4 linked regions of the Homo sapiens genome follow. The protein of the gene in region 4 purifies or fractionates together with the protein of the main gene of each other region. This does not show direct contact. Each region holds a gene or a part of one and is shown on either strand. Other genes may lie near its edges.

The links.
Region 1: the proteins of MTARC1 (region 4) and BDH1 purify together in Homo sapiens (affinity purification with mass spectrometry, with the first as the bait; one large-scale study listed by BioGRID). This does not show direct contact.
Region 2: the proteins of MTARC1 (region 4) and SLC25A29 purify together in Homo sapiens (affinity purification with mass spectrometry, with the first as the bait; one large-scale study listed by BioGRID). This does not show direct contact.
Region 3: the proteins of MTARC1 (region 4) and PDHX fractionate together in Homo sapiens (co-fractionation; one large-scale study listed by BioGRID). This does not show direct contact.

The regions. Positions count from the first base shown.
Region 1 is NC_000003.12:197,513,460-197,518,564, reverse strand, and holds part of BDH1 (D-beta-hydroxybutyrate dehydrogenase, mitochondrial precursor), read left to right. Parts: intron 1-4,148; coding exon 4,149-4,301; intron 4,302-5,105.
Region 2 is NC_000014.9:100,292,522-100,297,040, forward strand, and holds part of SLC25A29 (mitochondrial basic amino acids transporter), read right to left. Parts: exon of another isoform or gene 3,105-4,519; intron 857-3,104; coding exon 773-856; intron 512-772; coding exon 1-511. UniProt on the Homo sapiens protein: Mitochondrial transporter of arginine, lysine, homoarginine, methylarginine and, to a much lesser extent, ornithine and histidine. Does not transport carnitine nor acylcarnitines. Functions by both counter-exchange and uniport mechanisms.
Region 3 is NC_000011.10:34,922,522-34,927,626, reverse strand, and holds part of PDHX (pyruvate dehydrogenase protein X component, mitochondrial isoform 1 precursor), read right to left. Parts: intron 1-5,105.
Region 4 is NC_000001.11:220,803,407-220,808,511, forward strand, and holds part of MTARC1 (mitochondrial amidoxime-reducing component 1 precursor), read left to right. Parts: intron 1-1,645; coding exon 1,646-1,707; intron 1,708-1,796; coding exon 1,797-1,868; intron 1,869-5,105. UniProt on the Homo sapiens protein: Catalyzes the reduction of N-oxygenated molecules, acting as a counterpart of cytochrome P450 and flavin-containing monooxygenases in metabolic cycles.

The DNA.
Region 1 (5,105 bases), on a different chromosome or scaffold from region 4:
GAGACCATAGAGCAGGAAGTGACTGATCGGGGGGGTCGGCCTGAGGGGGGGATGGAGACCATAGAGCAGGAAGTGACTGATCGGGGGGGTCAGCCTGAGGGGGAGATGGAGACCATAGAGCAGGAAGTGACTGATCGGGGAGGTCGGCCTGAGGGGGGGATGGAGTCCATAGAGCAGGAAGTGACTGATGGGGGGGGTCGGCCTGAGGGGGGATGGAGACCATAGAGCAGGAAGTGACTGATGGGGGGGGGTCGGCCTGAGGGGAGATGGAGACCATAGAGCAGGAAGTGACTGATTGGGGGGGGTCAGCCTGAGGGGGAGATGGAGACCATAGAGCAGGAAGTGACTGATTGGGGGGGTCAGCCTGAGGGGGAGATGGAGACCATAGAGCAGGAAGTGACTGATGGGGGGCGGTCGGCCTGAGGGGGGATGGAGACCATAGAGCAGGAAGTGACTGATTGGGGGGGGTCAGCCTGATGAGGAGATGGAGACCATAGAGCAGGAAGTGACTGATGGGGGGGGTCAGCCTGAGGGGGAGATGGAGACCATAGAGCAGGAAGTGACTGATTGGGGGGGTCAGCCTGAGGGGGAGATGGAGACCATAGAGCAGGAAGTGACTGATTGGGGGGGGTCAGCCTGAGGGGGAGATGGAGACCATAGAGCAGGAAGTGACTGATGGGGGGGGTCAGCCTGAGGGGGAGATGGAGACCATAGAGCAGGAAGTGACTGATTGGGGGGGTCAGCCTGAGGGGGAGATGGAGACCATAGAGCAGGAAGTGACTGATGGGGGGGTCGGCCTGAAGGGGGATGGAGACCATAGAGCAGGAAATGACTGATGAGGGGGTTGGCCTGAGGGGGGATGGAGACCATAGAGCAGGAAGTGACTGATGGGGGGGTCGGCCTGAAGGGGGATGGAGACCATAGAGCAGGAAGTGACTGATTGGGGGGGTCGGCCTGAGGGGGGATGGAGACCATAGAGCAGGAAGTGACTGATGGGGGGGTCGGCCTGAAGGGGGATGGAGACCATAGAGCAGGAAGTGACTGATGGGGGGGTCGGCCTGAAGGGGGATTGAGACCATAGAGCAGGAAATGACTGATGAGGGGGTCGGCCTGAGGGGGGATGGAGACCATAGAGCAGGAAATGACTGATGGGGTGGGGGGGTCAGCCTGAGGAGGGGATGGAGACATACAGCAGGAAGTGACTGATGGGGTCGGCCTGAGGGGGGGATGGAGACCATAGAGCAGGAAATGACTGATGCGGGGGTCGGCCTGAGGGGGGGATGGAGACCATAGAGCAGGAAATGACTGATGCGGGGGTCGGCCTGAGGGGGGATGGAGACCATAGAGCAGGAAGTGACTGATGGGTCTGCCTGAGGGGTGGGGTGAAGACGGAGGTGGAGGAGTGAGTGAGACAAACAGACCCAGGAGGCTTCTCCAGCAGCCCAGGAGACAGGCAGCGAGGACCCAAGGGAATGCTAGTGGAAACAGGAAGGAAGAACTGACCCAGCAGAGGAAACCAGCAACAGCCTGGGGCGTGGGGACTTTGTCCTCAGAGAGATCTGGGTCCAAATCCCACCCTCCCTGCCTGTTAGCTGGGTGACATTGACCAAGGTGCTTAACCTCTCTGAGCTTCAGTTGCCTCAACCGGATATGAGACAATTTAGGATCTATTTTCCAGGGTGGTTGTGAGGATCAGGGAAGTTAATGAATGTAAAGGGCTTGATTAGGGGTCTGCCAGCTGTCATGTTGATCTTGAGCTGTAATATTAGCAGTACTGGGTGACTCAGTAGGTGGGGGAGGGGTGGAGGAGCTGGAGGAGTCACAGACAAAAGTAAAATCATTAACAAAGAGGAGGAGCAGGCTTGGGCAGCTTGGAAACTTGACGTGTTGGTTGTGGTTAGGGTGAGTCAGGGACCCGTGGGACATTCAGGTGGAAGCGAGACAGGAGATGGGATGAGGAGAGAGAGCCGTGACTCCCAAGGAGAACTGAGGGGCCACTGGTGCGGAGGCGATCTTGGGGATGTTACAGGAAAGTTGCTGTCACCCAACCAGCGGGCATGCCTCCGTGAGTTTATTCAGAACATTGGCTGAGGATTCCAGATGGCAACTAGGTCCACCACTCTCAACACTCATTAAAGCTGTAATCCAGGGGCTGTGCACTTTCACAGGTCATGTTTCATTAAACTTTTTTGGATAGTAGCGTCAAATGTCATTGTTTTATTTTTAGGTAGAGAAAGGGCTGTATGCATTTTAAGTCATGGGATATTGTCCGTTATGAATCAAACACAAAACGGCTGCAAAATTCACAAACATGAAGAAGATGAGGACACCTAAGAGTTAAGTGTACTTTGAGAGGAGCAGGATTAGGCCAGGACATTGGGGGCCACTTGTATCTGGGGGCAGGTGAAAGAAAGGTGTCAGGGAAGATGCAGGAGATGCCTGGGTATCACTAATGCTGAGGGAGAGGTGAGCCTCAAGGAGTACTGGCAGTACTCATATCGTAGCGAGCCTGAGGAGAGTGAAGACTGGGGGTGAGGTCCTTGGTGTACCACCCTGGAGACCCTGGAGACTGCGTGGTCAGGACAGCTGAGGGCTGGGACCCAGTGTGGTATGGAAGGGAGATGGAGAGGATAGAGCGCGCGCGCGCGCGTGTGTGTGTGTGTGTGTGTGTGCGTGCTCTGTCACCCAGGCTGGAGTGCCGTGGCATGATCCGGCTCATTGCAACCTCTGCCTCCTGGGTTCAAGAGATTTTCCTGCCTCAGCCTCCCGAGTAGCTGGGACTACAGGTGCCCGCCACCACACCCGGCTAATCTTTGTATTACAGGATAGAGTTCTTGGAAGCCTGGCGTGGAGGGAGGGAGAGCAGGTAGCACAGTTACAGAAGGATCTTCGGGATATGGAAATGCGGTATTTGTGGACACTCATTCATCTAACACACATTTGTTGAGCTCCTAATGTGTATAGAACTGAAGGGATGGAGTCATGGGCAGTGGAAAAGCTGAAATTGTGTAAAAGAGAGAGAAGGATCAGTGGCTATGGTCTCGAAGATGACGTGGAAGTGTCAGCCATGACGGGTGGGGAGTGGCCTGCTGCTCCTCCTGGGAAGAGAAGAAGGTGAAGACTCAGGGCGCGTCTGCAGGGAGACAGTGGGAGCTGTGGGGTCGTGGATGACGCTGATCCTGTCATTAGCATCTGAGCGAGGTCACAGGTGAGACCTAGAGCAGGGAGACACCCGCAAGGCTTTGGTGGAGAGTGGGAGTGAGCTCTTCATGGACACTCTGTTAACCAGCAATTTCCTTTCCCTAATAAATGCCCTTAATTCTCCATAATTGAAGGAGAAGGCACCAGAGGGCAGTGAATGAAGCTTTAATTTGGGTAACACGGAAGGAAAGCAGCTAGAGACCAATTACTCTGTCATTTACACAAACTCATTTCCATGATTAACTTGGAAAATAAAGCAGCGCCGAGTTCCCACAGGCAGGGGAGGGCCCCAGGATGGGAGCTCTGCTCTGAGGCTGTGCCTTGGGAAGGAGCACGGGGCTATCGGCCCGGGAGACCAAACACTGAGGGTTTCCACAACAAAGAGGCAGGGCCCAGCTCTGTCCTGAGGCTCTGACCCATCCAGCCTTTGCACCCCAACAAACTGAACTCAGAGAGGTCCCTGCAAAACACAGCTGCCTCCTCGTGCCCACCTCCCCTGTGATTTCCCTGGCTTCTGGCAAGAGAAGAGAAGACGTGAGCAAAAGCTCAAGGGCAGAGATGAGTAAACAGGAACGGGGCGTGAAACTCAAACTCAGGGTGTGGGGATGGGATGGGGTGGAGTGGAGTGGAAGTGGGAATTTGAGGTGAGGTGAGACTGAAGGCCGGGGGACACGGCAGGCTGGGTCATGATGGGCCCAGAGACTCGAGCCAGGCAGATGTGACGTGAGGACTGGACATTCTAGACGCAAGGGAGGGCTGCAGTCAGCACTTTAGGCCTCTTTACCTCCTGTCGTTCCTGAGTGACTCTAGAAAGTTTCTTGAGAGCACTGGGCGAGAGGCTGGGAAGTCACAGGAAAGAAGCAGAGAGGAGGCTGGCCTGCAGGCTGATGGGCAATGTCTGGGCCAAGCCCATGTGGTAAATGCACATCTATCCCTCTCCTGTCCAGGCATGTGGGGCCTCGTTAACAATGCCGGCATCTCAACGTTCGGGGAGGTGGAGTTCACCAGCCTGGAGACCTACAAGCAGGTGGCAGAAGTGAACCTTTGGGGCACAGTGCGGATGACGAAATCCTTTCTCCCCCTCATCCGAAGGGCCAAAGGTGAGTGGGAAAGGGAGCTCCCTCCTGCCCCTGAACCTGCCCCACGTGTTCATCTTTGCTCAGAATGGAAATACCTGTCCCAGCAGCTCCAATGTCCACAACTCAGCAGAGGTGAGCTCGTGAATCCCAGGGACTATGCTGGGCCTGGGGTGATGGTGGGCAGAGGGGCTGTGGCCGGGTAGGGGAGGAGGAAGCAGAGCAGGTAAGAGGTCAGTGGTCCATGCAGCAAAAGCTTAAAGAGTTGAGCAGCCATCCACTCTGCACACCTAATCTATAGAGAGAATCACCCTTTGCACAAAGCTGTGTGTACACATCTTTGTATCAGTCAGGTGTGGTTAGTAAAATCTGGCATATTCATTCTATGGGTTATTTATATCGTAGTTTAAAAAATGAGATCATTGTGGTATTAGGGAACAATAGTAAAAATCAAGATTAGAAATTTGGAAAACCAACAAAACACCCAAACCATGTGGGTGGCCAAATGTGAGCAAACCACTTTAGAAGTCATTGACTTGGATTTTTTTCTCTGGCATAGCAAACAATTGTGGCAAAAAGGGTAAGATCCATACATCTATGGTGAAGTCCTAGCAACAACAAGCATGAACACAGACTGCAGCTGTAGGATTTTAGATGGAAACCCCAACCCTTCAGTGACTTCAAATTTAGAGCTTTCTGAAAGGTGCCTCCCCCAGGATGGGCTGAGTTCCCTCCCGGGGACACACCTGGATGGGCTGAGTGCCCTCCCGGGGACACACCTGGATGGGCTGAGTGCCCTCCCGGGGGCACACCTGGATGGGCTGAGTG
Region 2 (4,519 bases), on a different chromosome or scaffold from region 4:
CGCCCCGCAGTCCGTCCGCCTGCAGCCGCGACTTGACCACGTCCACAGGATAGGTAGAGAGCCAGGACACGATGCCTGACGTACCGCCCGCCAACAGCAGCTTGGGCACCAGCAGGCGGTCGCCCGGCTCGCAGCCCAGCGCCCGCGTGAGAGCGTCATAGGTGAGGAAGTAGACGCCGAAGCTGGGCGTCTCACGCAGCAACGTGGACACCATGCCCCGGTTGACGCCACGCAGACCCTCGTGCCCGTAGATCTGCGCGAGGCAGTCCAGCGAGCCCTTGTAGGTGCGCGCTGGGCCCGCGTCCTGCAGCTGCAGCCGCGTCTTGGCCAGCTCCATGGGGCAGCAGATGACGCACTGGATGGCGCCCGCCGCCGCACCTGCCAGGAACTGGTTGAGGGGCGAGTCGTGGCCCAGGGCCCGGAGGGTGTTGCCCTGCACCCCGAACACCAGCGCGTTGATGAAGGTGAGCCCCATGAGCGGCGAGCCCAGGCCCTTGTACAGGCCCAGCACCTGCGGGGACAGAGACGCCATCAGAGCCGGCAACGCGCACCTCCCGGGCCCTCCACGCGGAAGGGGGTCGGGGGATGGCAGCCCCAGCCCACCCCAGGGGCTCCTGAGGACCAAGCAGAATTTCGTTAGAACCTAGGTCCTGACTGGCCTCCTGGTCGTCCTGACACCTTCCTTCCTGGCTCTCTGGTCTGGGGTGGTGGCAGCCCGGAAGCTAGTTCCCCATCCTGTGCCTCCCGAGCCCCACCAGCCCAGGCCACTCACGCTCTCTTGCTTGATGATGGACTTGAAGCAGTGCAACGTCCCGCGGTACTGAGGCTTCTCCACGCTCTGGACCTGAAGCCGTACCTGGAAGGAGAGGGTCCAGTGAGAGGCAGGCAGGCAGGACCAGAGCACCCAGCTCCCGGGTCTGGTGCTTAGGCTGCCTAGGAGGGTCTCCCAAGGAGGCCGGGCACTCAGGCACAGTCTAAGACTTTTGTAATTCCAGGGCAGGGTGGGCCGGGTATCTATGCCTTCTCAGGATGGGGTGCCAGTAGGCAAACAGCTAAAGGGACAGGCTGCTGGAGACAGGGTAGGGGGTCCCCAAGATCTCAGACCAATTCAGGTTAAGCCTCTTGTTTACACTATGGCTGCACAGTGCACTGCCAGTGGGGCATGAACGACCTCCTGAGACTGGCCCGTTCTCCAGGTGATGCTTGTCATACTGCTGAGTGAGCGGCCCATGTCCCAGACTAGGCTGAAGGGCCCCTGCCCTAATGTCCCATCAGAGACTGGCTTCGAGGCAATAGGCGCAAAAAGTGATGAGCCTGGCCAGGTGCAGTGGCTCACGCCTGTAATCCCAACACTTTGGGAGGCTGAGGTGGGTGGATCACTTGAGGTCAGGAGTTCAAGACCAGCCTGGCCAACGTGGCGAAATCGTGTCTGTAAAAAAAATTAGCCTAGTGTGGTGGCATACGCCTGTAATCCCTGCTACTCAGGAGGCTGAGGTGGGAGAATTGCTTGAACCCGTGAGGCAGAGGATGCAGTGAGGTCATGCCACTGCACTCCAGCCTGGGCGAGAAAGGAACATTCCATCTCAATAAATAAATAAATAAAAATAAAAGCAATGACCTTGGCTCCAGGAGCTCCTGCCTGGTCTCTGCCAGTAGCCTCTCGTGAGAACAGCAGTTATGAGTTAATAGAGTGGTGGCAAGAGAACAGCCAACAACCTCCTTGGGGACCCACGTCAGCAGCTCTGGGGCCTGGGGCGCTGGTCAGGCCCCGCTGCCTCCGAGCCCAGTGGCCCAGAACCTCTTCCATGTCAAAGTGCTCTTTGTTGCCTATGAGCTTATCTTTGCTCAATAGGAGGCTCAGAGTTGCAGAGCGGGCGGTGGGAGTAAACTAGGTCAAGTCACATTCTCAGGGGCTGGTTCCCTAGGTCTGACTCAGAAATGATCATTCTTACAGCCAGGGCCACAGAGCAAGTGCCTTCGGTACTAGGCAGCATGGGACAGGGGAGGGCTTCACACTCAATTATCTCGGCATTGGGACAACTGCCCCCATTTCCAAGATGGGAAGACAGGCTCAGAGATGTTTAACAACTTGGCCAAAGCTGTCCTCTCCAGGGACATGAGCAGCTGTGTTGCTCAGAGTGAGGGTGGGAGGGAGTGCTAGCAAGGGAGAGCCCTCACCGGGAACAGCCAGGCTTCTGCCCGGATTCTGGAACCTTTTCCAATTCTCTCCACCAGAATAGGTGGGCCCTCTATTGGTGAATGCACTTATAAAAAATGTTTTGTTAGGAAACAAGTACCATCTCAGTACCCCCAGGACCTCAACAGCTGGAAGCCAATGCTTCAAGATTGGCCCGAAGCACCCTCCCACCCTGGAGGCCCAGTTCTTGGCCAACACCTTGATGCGAGGTTTGCTGCTCTCCCTTCAATGTTCTGGGGCCTCTGGGGGGATCTCTGTTCCTCCTGCAGCCCCAACACTGGCACTAAGAGGGCTGTGTGAGTAGAACTGATGTGACATGGAGCTGTCCCTTCCCAGGTTGGATACTCAGTGCCACCTGGGTAGTGTTGTGAAGTCTTTGCAGATCACAGACACTGGTGAATGCCCAAGTCCAGCCGGCTGGGGAATGTCAGGCTTAGGTCAACTCAGCTTCTCCCACCAATGTGGGCAGAGGCCTCTCCCCACTTTGTTTCTGACCCCTCAGTACCCCTCAGTCTGTGACGAGCCCTTGCTCTCTGGGAGAGGAACTGTGGCCCAGTGTCCCAAGTCTTGTCATTTATAGCTCAGGCTCTTAAAATCTTGGGGTGCCAGGCTCTCCTTTGAGGATTGATGGGAACGGACCCACCCCTGGGAAACTAGTCATTTGGACACAAGTTTAGGAAGCTCCCAGCTCCCCATAGGGCCGAGAGACCCCCACATGAGGACCCCCAATCCAGAGGGGGCTGATTTTTTTTGGCCAGCCCGAGCCCCCACCCCAGGACCTGTGCTGAGCCCAAGCTTGCCTCACACCCTCCCTGTCCCCTGCTACGGAGGGAACTCTGGGGTTGGGGAGATGGGCATGACAGGGTGGGGTCCAGGCTGGGATCTGGTTCACCTGGTCTGTACTTACTAGCGCTCTCCAGGGTGAGGCTTACGCCCATCTACAACAAAGTTACACTTTTGCTATGGATGGAGACAGCCCCTAGCTCAGAAAGTAAAGGCGGTTAAAGCAACACAAAATTTCAACATCACATCCAGGCGCGGAGCCCCCACAGCCAGCCCCCACCCACACTCCCCATCCCATGCCCAGGGATGGCCGGTCACCCCCTCATCATAGGTCAAGACAACTGCTCCCTGATTATTGCTGTGTCCAAGGAAGCAGGACAGAAAACTCCCTTCGTGTAGAAACGTGTGAAGGCCGTGTGCTTCAGGACGGTGGCTGTGGTTCTGGGCGCTATAGAGGAGATCCAGATCTTGGATTCTTTCAGTCCCAAGGGCCTGGGGGAATAAACTGTGACTGTCCCAGCCATGAGATAGTCTGTGGCCATGTGACAGTACGGACTGACACAGACTCGGGTGGCCCCTGATGATCCTAGGGTACAGCTGCAATTATATTCAACCAGGCAAAAGGGACCCGTGGTGTTGGAAGTGAGGACAGTGGGCCAGGCCTGTCATCCCAGCACTTTGGGAGGCCAAGGCAGGAGGATCACTTGAGCCCAGTAGTTTGAGACCAGCTGGGCAACATATCAAGACCCCATCTCTACTAATAACTTCAAAAAAAACATGAGCTAGGCATGGTGGTGTGTGCCTGTAGTTTCAGCTACTTGAGAGGCTGCGGTGGGAGGATTGCTTGAGCCTGGGAAATCAAGGCTGCAGTGGGCTATGATTGCACCACTGCACTCCACCTAGGGTGACAGAGCAAGACCGTGTCTCAAAAAAAAAGGAGGAAGTTAGGCCAGTGGAAGCCTCAGAAGGGGAGGGAGGAGTTGATAGGAGCAGGAGGGAAGACTTCCAGAGGGCTGGCCATGTTCTGTTTCTCCTGGGTGGCAGCTCGCCACGCATGTGTTTTGCGACGACTTGTACACCTAGGATGTGTGCACTTTCCTTCTTTTTTCTTTTTTGAGACGGAGTCTCATTCCGTTGCCCAGGCTGGAGTGCAGTGACGCGATCTTGGCTCACTGCAAGCTCCGCCTCCCGGATTCACGCCATTCTCCTGCCTCAGCCTCCCGAGTAGCTGGGACTACAGGCACCCGCCACCACGCCCGGCTAATTTTTTGTATGTTTAGTAGAGACAGAGTTTCACCGTGTTAGCCAGGATGGTCTTGATCTCCTGACCTTGTGATCCGCCCGCCTCAGCCTCCAGAAGTGCTGGGATTACAGGCATGAGCCACTAGCCTGGCCAGGATGTGTGCACTTTCTATATGTGCTGGACCTCAACTAAAAACAAACAGTAGCCAGGCGTGCTGGCACGTGCCTGTAATCCCAGCTACCCAGGGGGTTGGGGGGGGAACCGAGGCAGGAGAATCACTTGAACCCAGGAGGAAG
Region 3 (5,105 bases), on a different chromosome or scaffold from region 4:
GTATCTTTTCCAGACGTATTTTTCTGATGGGAAAGTAATTACACAATCGTAAGATAAACTTGAAGTGACAGGCCTGCACATAATTAATATCTGCCCTTTATGGCTGCTGTCAACTCTACTAAGATAGTGTAGACTTTTCTAGACTCCTTGGAATGGAATTTTATCCTTTACCTAATATTAATTAATTTGCATTTGAACTTATATGCAGACTCCCTCCTTATTCCAGTAAGCTGTACATTCTACCATTCTCTTGTCAAATTAAGAAGGCCTTAAGATATGCACCAATTACGTTTCCTAGTATTAGTTTCCCACAACTACAGGTAAGTAGTTTGCTGCACTCATTACACAAGTTTTTCAATTAGTATTCACAAAGTTCTCAAAATTTAGTTAAAATTTAACGTTTTGTAGTCACTTCAGTGTTCTGCTCCTTCTTATAAAGCTAGCAAATTATATCTAATTGGCTTGTGAAGTCTACCCTTCCACAGCAGTTACAAAACATTTTTAAAAATTTTTAAATGACTATTGTAATGTATGTGGTCCAGTACTTTATATTTAAACTTGCTGATTTTAAAAGTAAAGTCTCATGACTCATAACTATTTTACTCTTTTTTTACATCAACAGAATGACACAATACATTAAAATTTTTTGCTTAGCTTATTGCTGTTTTCCCTGCCATTTCTGCTACATGAGCAATTTACCAATCACTGAATTTTACAGTAATCCCTCTAAGCAATTCCTGTATTTCCTCAAATGGGCTCTTCCAATTTTTCTACAGCATAATTCTGACTTCAATTTCAAATATGGTACACTAATCTAATTCTAGTTTCTTCTTCCCTAAAGTATTTCTTTTATCCTAAGAACAAAATGCTCATACTTCAGCAAACTCAATTATATCAAAGCTTTAAATTGATGATTGATTCATGAATGCTAAAAGGTCTCTAGATTAAAAAAAAAATTTAATACAAGCAAACTCTTAAAATACAAATGCAGAACAAACTGCTTTATGGTTAATATGAAGCAGATTTAAGCTCCATTACTCTGACTAAAGTAATTAAGGGAATTCAGCAGTTTACATATGGTACAGCTTAAACATCATGCTCTAGTTCATTTATAGGCTCTAGTTCATTTATAATCCAAGCATGCAAAAATCATGAAATGAAGATAGACCAAATGAAAAAGTAAATTATCCAGTACTTTCTTAGTGTGGCTCCCTGTCTCTAACATTAATTTGCTTCTTCTCTAATAGGGAGAGAGACTGTTCATTTAATCACTTCTCATTCCAATGTCAGAACACACTAAATAAAACGGAGCCTTCAAAATTGCTGTTCAAATGAAACAATTCTGCCATCTGCAGGCTGGATGAAATAAGGCAGAATAAAGTAAAAGTAATTTAAAAATCAGCACTAGGCACAGAGTAATATTAACACTTGGAATAAAGGCAGTTATAGTATTTTTTGTTTTAAAGGATCGTTTGTCATATAAGTCTTCTTTGTTCAAATAGTTATTTTGGTGTGGTACTGGAGTAAAAATAGACTGAAAATGTCAATGGACCACAACAGAAAATGAATGCACAACAGTTTGTGTGAAAACAGCATTTACAGGTCTTGGCATGCTAACAAACATAAAAAAGATAACCCATAAGCAATATATAGGTTGAGTATGCCTTATCAGAAATGTTTGGGACTATAAGAGTTCTTAATTTCAGATTTTTTCAGATTTTGGAATATTTGCATTCATTATTCTTACTGGTTGAGCATCCCTAATCTCAAAGTCCAAAATCCCAAATGCTACAATGAACATTCCTTTGAGCATCACCTCTGAGCATCATGTCAGTGCTCAAAAAGCTTTGGATGTCAGATTTTCAGATTAGAGATGCTCAAACCTGTATATGGCATCATCCAATTACTACCTGCCCAGCTTGTACACATACAAAGATTGAAATGAAATACTCCAAAATGACAATAGTAGTCATTCTAGCTAGTGATATTACTATAAGGGCTTTTTATTTCTTTTATTTCTGATAACCTACATTTTCATACATGTCTACAATAAATTTATCCAATCTTACTTCCTCTTTCAAACTTAACTAACACTAAGTTTAAAAATGTGCTGTTTGCTTTTGTTAATTTTAAGCAGAAACCCACAAGGACACAGAGAAAAGGAATAACAGCATACAATTTTGGAAGCAGAAAAGTAAATAGATACGTAATAATCAATTAAAGAGACCCTAGAAAGCTGTATCCTAAGCCAGGGAGGATTTGGGTGGCTGCTGTTTGAAAAGTAGCTAGATACCTGGATCCCCTCTCTTAATCCAGTGGTAGGTAACAACCCTACCCTCATTCAACAGAAGACTGAAGCTTGTTTTCTCTGCAGAGGGCAAAAAGAAGAGCTTGAAGTTCAATCTACATAGCTGAGGATATATAAAAACTGCAAAAATAAGTTAAGTGAGAAAGTATCTGATGTGGCTGACATTACAGAAAACTGTGTGGAGAAGCTATTACATACCGTGAGATAAATTAGAAATTATCACAGAAAAAACTAACTAAAAATTTAAAGGGCAGCAATAACTGCAGCAAAAAGAAAGCTAACAAACAAAATATGGGACAATCCTCAATTGTGCATAATATTTGTTTAATGTAAACACTGAATATTTGACCAAGAATTACAAAATAATTTCACTGGGGAGGGAAAACAGAGGGCGGCACTGACCGGCAGTCATCCACAGAAAACGGCTAAAATAGAAACAGAGAGATGGGCAAATGCCAGAAGAAAGTTAAGAGACAAAACTAGTTACTTCTAAGGAAGACTGGGAAAGTTGGGTGAGATGGGGCAGAGATCCACTGTACTGTTACAAGCCTTTCAGTACTATTTAAACTATATGCATGTACTATTGTGCTAAATGAAATATTTTATTATTTAAATATTTAATTTAAAAAAACTCAAGGAGAAGCAGAATACCACAGTGATTTAGAGAATAGGTACTGGAATCAAACTGCCTAGGCTCTAATTTCAGATCCACCACCTACAAGTTATTTATTCTATCTATGTCTGTTTCCTCTTCTCTAAAATGGTGCCATAAATAGATTTTTGTAAAGAAATAAGGTAGGCCGGGAGCAGTGGCTCATGCCTGTAATCCCAGCACTTTGGGAGGCTGAGGCGGGTGGATCACATTAGGTCAGAAGTTCAAGACCAGCCTGGACAACATGGTGAAAGCCCGTCTTTACTAAAAATACAAAAATTAGGCTTGGTGGCACATGCCTATAGTCCCAGCTACTTGGGAGGCCTGAAACCGGGAGGCAGAGGTTGCAGTGAGCCGAGACCGCCCCACTGCACTCCAGTCTGGGCGACAGAGTAAGGCTCCATCTAAAAAAATAGAAAGAAAGAAAGAAGGTAACACATGGGACTTGGCAAAGAATAAGTCTCAAAAATGTTAGTTATTTATTTTTGATGGGCAGCATAGAAACAATTAAGAGGGTATATTCTGGAGGCATCCAGATAGCTGGCTAGATGTATCACAATATCCTATTACATTGTAAGATGTCACAATATTGTAGAATATCACAGTTCCTTCTTGGAGTAATGAGAGATGCATTCACAGGTTCCTTTCACCTTCCCAGCCTAAACTTGAAGGTTCCCTTTTTACTCTCTCCTTTACCTTATTCAGCAGTGTTCTCATGACTAAAGTACACTAATTCTTGATCTCTATTCTAACTACATTTCATACTTGAAAACCAACCTCTCATTAAAATCACTGGCAAATGTTTTACCTTCAGTGCTCATACTATTCACTTCCAAAGCTAAAAGCCAAATCAGGCATTCAACAAATGCCTACTGAACACTTGTTATCCTAGCCCTAGACCAAACCAGATTCTCGACCTCAAAAGGATTAAAATTTAGATGAGAAGATAAATACACAAGTACTAGACAGTAGTAGATAAAAATGCCATTAGACCATCAAAGAATTATGAGAGCTGAGATTCTACCTGATGGAACACTGGAAAACAACAACAAAAAAATCTGTACTAGTATTACTTAATATCTATTAGGATGGCTATTATCCAAAAAAAAGCTAGGAAATGACCAAAATGTTTATGGAAATAGTCTCTAGACTAGGTGGTATTTACAGACAAATTACAGGGAGATCTGAGTCCTCTGGACTCAGAATTATATATAAAATTGTGTATGTATGCACTTTCCTGAAGAAGTTAGTGGTATAGCTTTTATAGTTTAACAGATTTGTTCCCCTCCAAAAACCAGGGCTAATATATTCCCAAGAAATCTCTCCTGAATTATACATTTGCTGATCCTAATTTTTCCCTAGGAATGTTTCATATAATAAAGTCCTTGATTTATACAGTAACAGAAAGATATCAAGCAGATCACTAGCTATAGTAAATGTACTGCCTACCAAAAAAATGAATCACCCATATACCCCATCTTGTTCATAGAATCTGCTGATTCTATATTATTATACTTCTACTTAGTATCCAATGGCACATTAGAAAAGAGGTTAGCCAGAATTTTTAGATAGCATATGGTGTAGAATGCATTTCCTTTGAATGAAATAAACCAAACATTTTAGAAGAGATTTCAGCTTGGAATACTGTCCTTCTTGGTATTAAACTATAAAATTAAAATTCTACATGAAGTTCACTTTACTTTGCCATCTTGGGAGAAGAGCCAAAAGAAATTACCATTCCATTTACAGCCTAGCAAAAGAATACATACACACACACACACACACACACACACACACACACAACGATACTTTGGGAATTTACACATTTTGTCGTAAAAGGCAAATTAAGCTCAAGACAACAACAAGAAGGTATATTTAAGAGTACATCACCTTAGAAATTTACAGATAGGAGAAGTCAATATATACTCTAACTCTCTTAAATAGTCCTGCCACCCTTACACGTAGTCAAGAATTTTGGTGTCCTTAATTGTTCTAAAATGATAGGCTGTCACAGAAATGCTAGTCTACAATGCGGTTATTACTATGTCTGATTTCATTTTTTTAAAAAAAGCAAAAATGTTCATTTAGGATGTACACACGGTGAACTTTAAAACGTCAGCATGCTGACACTGTTCTGCTGAAATC
Region 4 (5,105 bases):
ACGAACGAAAGCTCCAAACTGCAAACTGGTGTCTCCTGGTCACTGAGAATCTTACTCCCTTCCCTACTTAAAACTCTTGACATTCTCTAAAAGCCTGGATTAAAAGCCCCCTCCCCTGGGAAGCCTGCTCTGATTGCTGGACCTCAAAGCGCTCCCTCCCTTCTCTGAAGCTACCGTGTGCTCTGAGCCTCTCCCATACCAGGCTTGTCCTGTTTGAACTGGTCACCTCCAGGTGCTGTAGGAAGACTTTCCTGGGCTCATCAGTGCTTATGACTCAATCTCCAGTAGTTTTTTTTTTGGAATAGAAGGGGCTCTGGAAGTATTTCTTTAATTAATAATAACTTAATTTCCTAAGTGGAACCCTTATTTCTCTCCTTTTATACCCTTTTTATGTGTTTTTTTGTGACCATAGTGCCCCCTTGTGGAGAAATGTTCACAGGACAGGCTGTGGCTGTGCTAATCCGCTGTGCCCAGTTTTCTGGACTGTTGAAAATATGTGCTTGAGATCCATTTTATGATTTACGATAGAACAAAACCCCTGTGTCATATATATCAAGAATAACACACACTATTGGAGTTAAAATTCTGAGCTCATGATCATCCAAGGACAAGGCAGTTTGCTTTTTAACTCCAGGTCTTTGCCTTCCGCCCTCGTGTGGTGGGCAATTCTCTCCGAGGGTAAGAAGGTCAGGACTATAATCAAATGTCCTTTGCCTCCTCAGCGCCCTTCCTTCTTATTGCTGTCCCCTCTGCCTGGAGTCCCCTTACCCTTCTTTTGTGCCTCTCAAACTCTCTGCCCTTTTAGACTCAGCACCCATCTTACCTATTCCTTATAAAACTTCCTGTAACCAGACCAGCCTGGAGAGTCATGCCTCTGAATCCCCAGAGTAAGCATTGCCAGCACAGTTAAACCAACACATGACGTGCTGCCTTGGAGTGCTTTTTGTGAATATTTCTGGCATTTAAAAATAAAATATTTATCTTTAGAATTCCATGTATGGATGGCCTATCTTGGCTGCTGGATTGGAGGGCCTTGGTCCACTAATGCGGTTTGTCGTGGAAACTAGGCTCCACTGACCCAGCCCACAGCTCCCCTGGCTGCAGTGCTTCGTAAATACTTCAGCAAAAATCAAAGAGGAATGAGGCTGCTGGTCCTGCTCCTGATGTGTCCGTATCTGGCTAGGGGAGACATGCACATACTCAGTGACTTAAGGCTCTTGATCCATATAACTTCAGGCAGGCACTAAGGGATCTGATATAATCTGAAGTAATGAACAATGCCCCCATCTGTCCCCCTCCCCACTTTCACCCACCCCATTCACTTTGTGCACCCCACCCCCCACCACCAGTCAAAGTGGGATCATCAGGGAGCCTCCCTGAGCGAGGCGAGTTTCCATGACATTTTTACAAGTGAGAGGAGAGGGAAATCTCATCTCAGGGGAATCAACTGGCATATCAAAGCCAGAGAGAGGGAACGCCAAGGTGTGTGGGTATCACTTGGCAGAGCAGGGCTGGGGGAGAACAGAAGGCTGCCATCACTGATGTGGGTGACATCGTTAGGTGCGAGGGCTCCTGGGAAATCTCTACACACGTGTCAGGGGCAGGGCCCAGAGATGCTCATGGGAATTTGTGCTTTGTCCCCTAGGATTCTTGGGATGAGCTTCTTATTGGTGACGTGGAACTGAAAAGGGTGATGGCTTGTTCCAGGTAAGGTGCTTTCCTGTCCCTGTGGGGTGGAGGTGGGGATAAGTTCGCTCTGCTCTGTCCCCCTTATGATGCTCTGTGTGTGTGTCCAGATGCATTTTAACCACAGTGGACCCAGACACCGGTGTCATGAGCAGGAAGGAACCGCTGGAAACACTGAAGAGGTAGGACTGGGCAGACGGGGCTCATCCTCGGGTTTAGGTGCCGGGAACGGAAGCAATATTTGTTGCTTAATGTTTATAAGAGGAAGCAGTGAAAACACCACACACATAGTCTTGAAACTCAAGAGGGTCCCATTAACGAGATAATTTGGGAAACATTCCCTGGTGTTTTGGACACCAACATGTCTGCTTAAACAAGTACTTTTATTTTTCATTTAGAAATCATAATTCAAATAAATCAATGTTTAAAAATTGCTTATGCATTTTGACAAATTTTATTACGGGCTAAGTATTAGATGATACCAAAAAATGTACTAGGTGTCCTAATGGCATTGTGGTTGTATAAGAAATGTCAATATATTTTAGAGAAGCTGATTGAAATATGTGTGTAGGAGTGAAGTGATGTGACATCTGGAACTTGCCATATATTATTTTAGCAAAAAGAAAAAAAGGATAAATGAGTACATTTTAAAAATGTGTCACAATCTTCATAAATAGAATCTGGGTGATAATTACGTGGGGTTTATTGCACTATTCTACTTTTATGTTTACTTTAAAATTTCTTAAGGAAAAATTTTAGGTGAAAGACACAGTACCGAGAATCATTTTAAATTGTATATAAAGATAGTCAAGATGCTGTGTTGATTTTACAAAGTTGATTATAAAATAGCACTATTTACTTTTTCATTTTTATTTGATTTTACTTTTTAAAAAACATATAAATGCACATGAGTAGATAAAAGGCTGAAAGGATATAAAACAAAATGGAGATACTCTTTTGGTATAGTCATAGAATTATGGAAAAGGGTTATTCTCATATGCAGTCTCTAAACTTTCTATAATTACTCTGCATTACTTTCGTGAAAACAACAATAACAGTTTAGCATACAAGCACTTCAGAGCTGATATCTGCCAAATTTGGGACCCAGGAAATTGCTGAAACTCTGAAAATGAACTAAGGGTGCTTCTCTTCATTGGTCCCTTTGACATTGAATGCTGAGTCACAGGCCAGGTGTCAGGTCTCTTCTCTACAGCCCCTGAGACCCTTCCTTGGCTTTGTGTAAGACCCTTCCTTGGCTTTGGTCCTGACTTGGCCTCCCCAGGTGTATCTTGTAGAAGGGAGGGCCCTGGGAACCTTGAGGAAGGAATGCAGTTGAGATGTGACTATCTTGTATCCAAACCATCATGAACGAGCGCATGACAGAGAGGTTGCTCTAGGCTTTGTGGAGCAGGACTCATTCCCTGTAACGTGAGGTTGTCTGCCTCCCCTTCCTTCCACCTCTCACCAACCTCATGGCCTTTTTGGGGGCCAATGATTCAGTCATCTTTGATCAACAACCAATCCCTCCCTGACAATTCTACTGTCCCAGATCTGGCCCCATCTCTGGGCAAGCTGAAGCCCTGGGCTGGAGGGCTGTCATCCCCGCTGTCACCTCACCCCTGAGCATGAGGCTGTGGCCTGACCTCTCTGGCCAGCACCTGTCATCCTATAGGAGATAAGTCCCAGAGTGTGGGCCAGGCTGCAGCAAGGTTAGCAGGTGGCCATGAGGGCCTAGGCCACCTGGCAGAGAGACAGTGGTCAGCAGGGAAGTCAAACAGGGTGGGTGGAGGGAATTACGGAGAAGGGGGTTTGTGGTACTCAAGGAATCCTTAGGTGGATAGCAAGCAGCTGGTCTCTACCTGGCTCCAACAGCGTTGGGTGTGATTTGCATCAACATTCAAAGAGGGGGCTACAGACCAGCCTAAGGGAATCCCAACATTTTGAGAGATGTTTCTCAATACTCAAAACATTAACAACTTTTCTGTAAAAAGCTAATATTGTGGAGCATTTAAGATTGGTATATTTCATTCCATGTAACTTTCACCTCAAAAAAAAAAGCAAATAATGGTTTTTACTCTAGGTAATAATATTCAAGCTGAACTGTTCAGAGTTGAAATGTACTGGTGTCTGCAACTTACTTGGAAATGCAAAAAGACAATACAGTGGATTGATGGATAGATACATGTGTGATAAAGAAAACATAGTCAAGGGCAGGCACGATGGCTCATGCCTGTAATCCCAGCACTTTGGGAGGCTGAGGCTGGTGGATAACTTGAGGTCAGGAGTTCGAGACCAGCCTGGCCAACATAGTGAAACTCTGTTTCTACTAAAAATACAAAACTTAGCTGGGCATGGTGGTGGTCACTTGTATTTGCAGCTACTCGGGTGGCTGAGGTAGGAGAATCCTTTGAATCCGAGAGGTGGAGGTTGTAGTGAGCTGAGATTGTGCCACTGCACTCCAATTTGGATGACAGAGTGAGACTCTGTCTCACAAAAACAAACAAACAAACAAAAAAACAAATATATATAGTCAAGTGTTAAGCTCAGAATTCAAGCAGCGGGTAAATGGGTGTTTGCTGTAAAATTATTTCACCATTTGCCTGCTTGAGAATTTTCATAGTAAAATTTTGGGGGGAAATGTCACTATATGTGACAGAACATTGATGAGAGGACCAGGGTTATAGCTATTCTTTGAAATGCGCTCACTCACCATCAGAACAAACCAGAATTCAGTCTTCCTGTTTTCCATGGCCACAGAGGAGCTACTAGGGGCAGAAAGCAGGGTGGGCCAGCGGGAAGATCCCGGGCTGGGAGTCAGGAGACCTGGATGTGCAGCACACCGACTGCTGTGCTCCTACCCCTGCCCGCACTCAGACCCTGAGTGTTCTTCCCTATAAAATAAAGGAGGCAGGACAGAAATAGATGATTCTGTGTAAATCAGCCAAGTGGTTTGGGGAATTGGCTGTCATCCTTTTTTGTCCATCTTGTTCTTTCTCTTCCCCCTGTGTGTTGCTCGGTGTGGGGCATCCTTCCCTCTGGATTTAGAAGGTTTATGCTCTTGCAGAAACAGCCTCCGCAAAGCACTTCACGTGTTTGGGCTTGTTCTCTGCATCTTCAGTGCCCCCCTTCCTCCATTGGGAGCCTGTGTTTATAGAAGGAGGATAATTGACCCTAAACACAGAGTGAGGGTGGGAAGGCGGGGGGCGCAAGGAGCCAGCACACCCCCCTGATCTTCCGCAGGCTTTGTGAAGCCCAACAATCTGGCCCTAATTGCTTCTAATACCCCAGGAGACAGTGCGGCCAGCCTAGGTGTCTTCTCCTATCTCTTACTGAGATTTAAATTGCCATGGATGTGTAATTTATGTTCTTCCCAAGACAGGTGGTCATAAATCGGGAAGAGAAAGGCCTGGCCACATCCC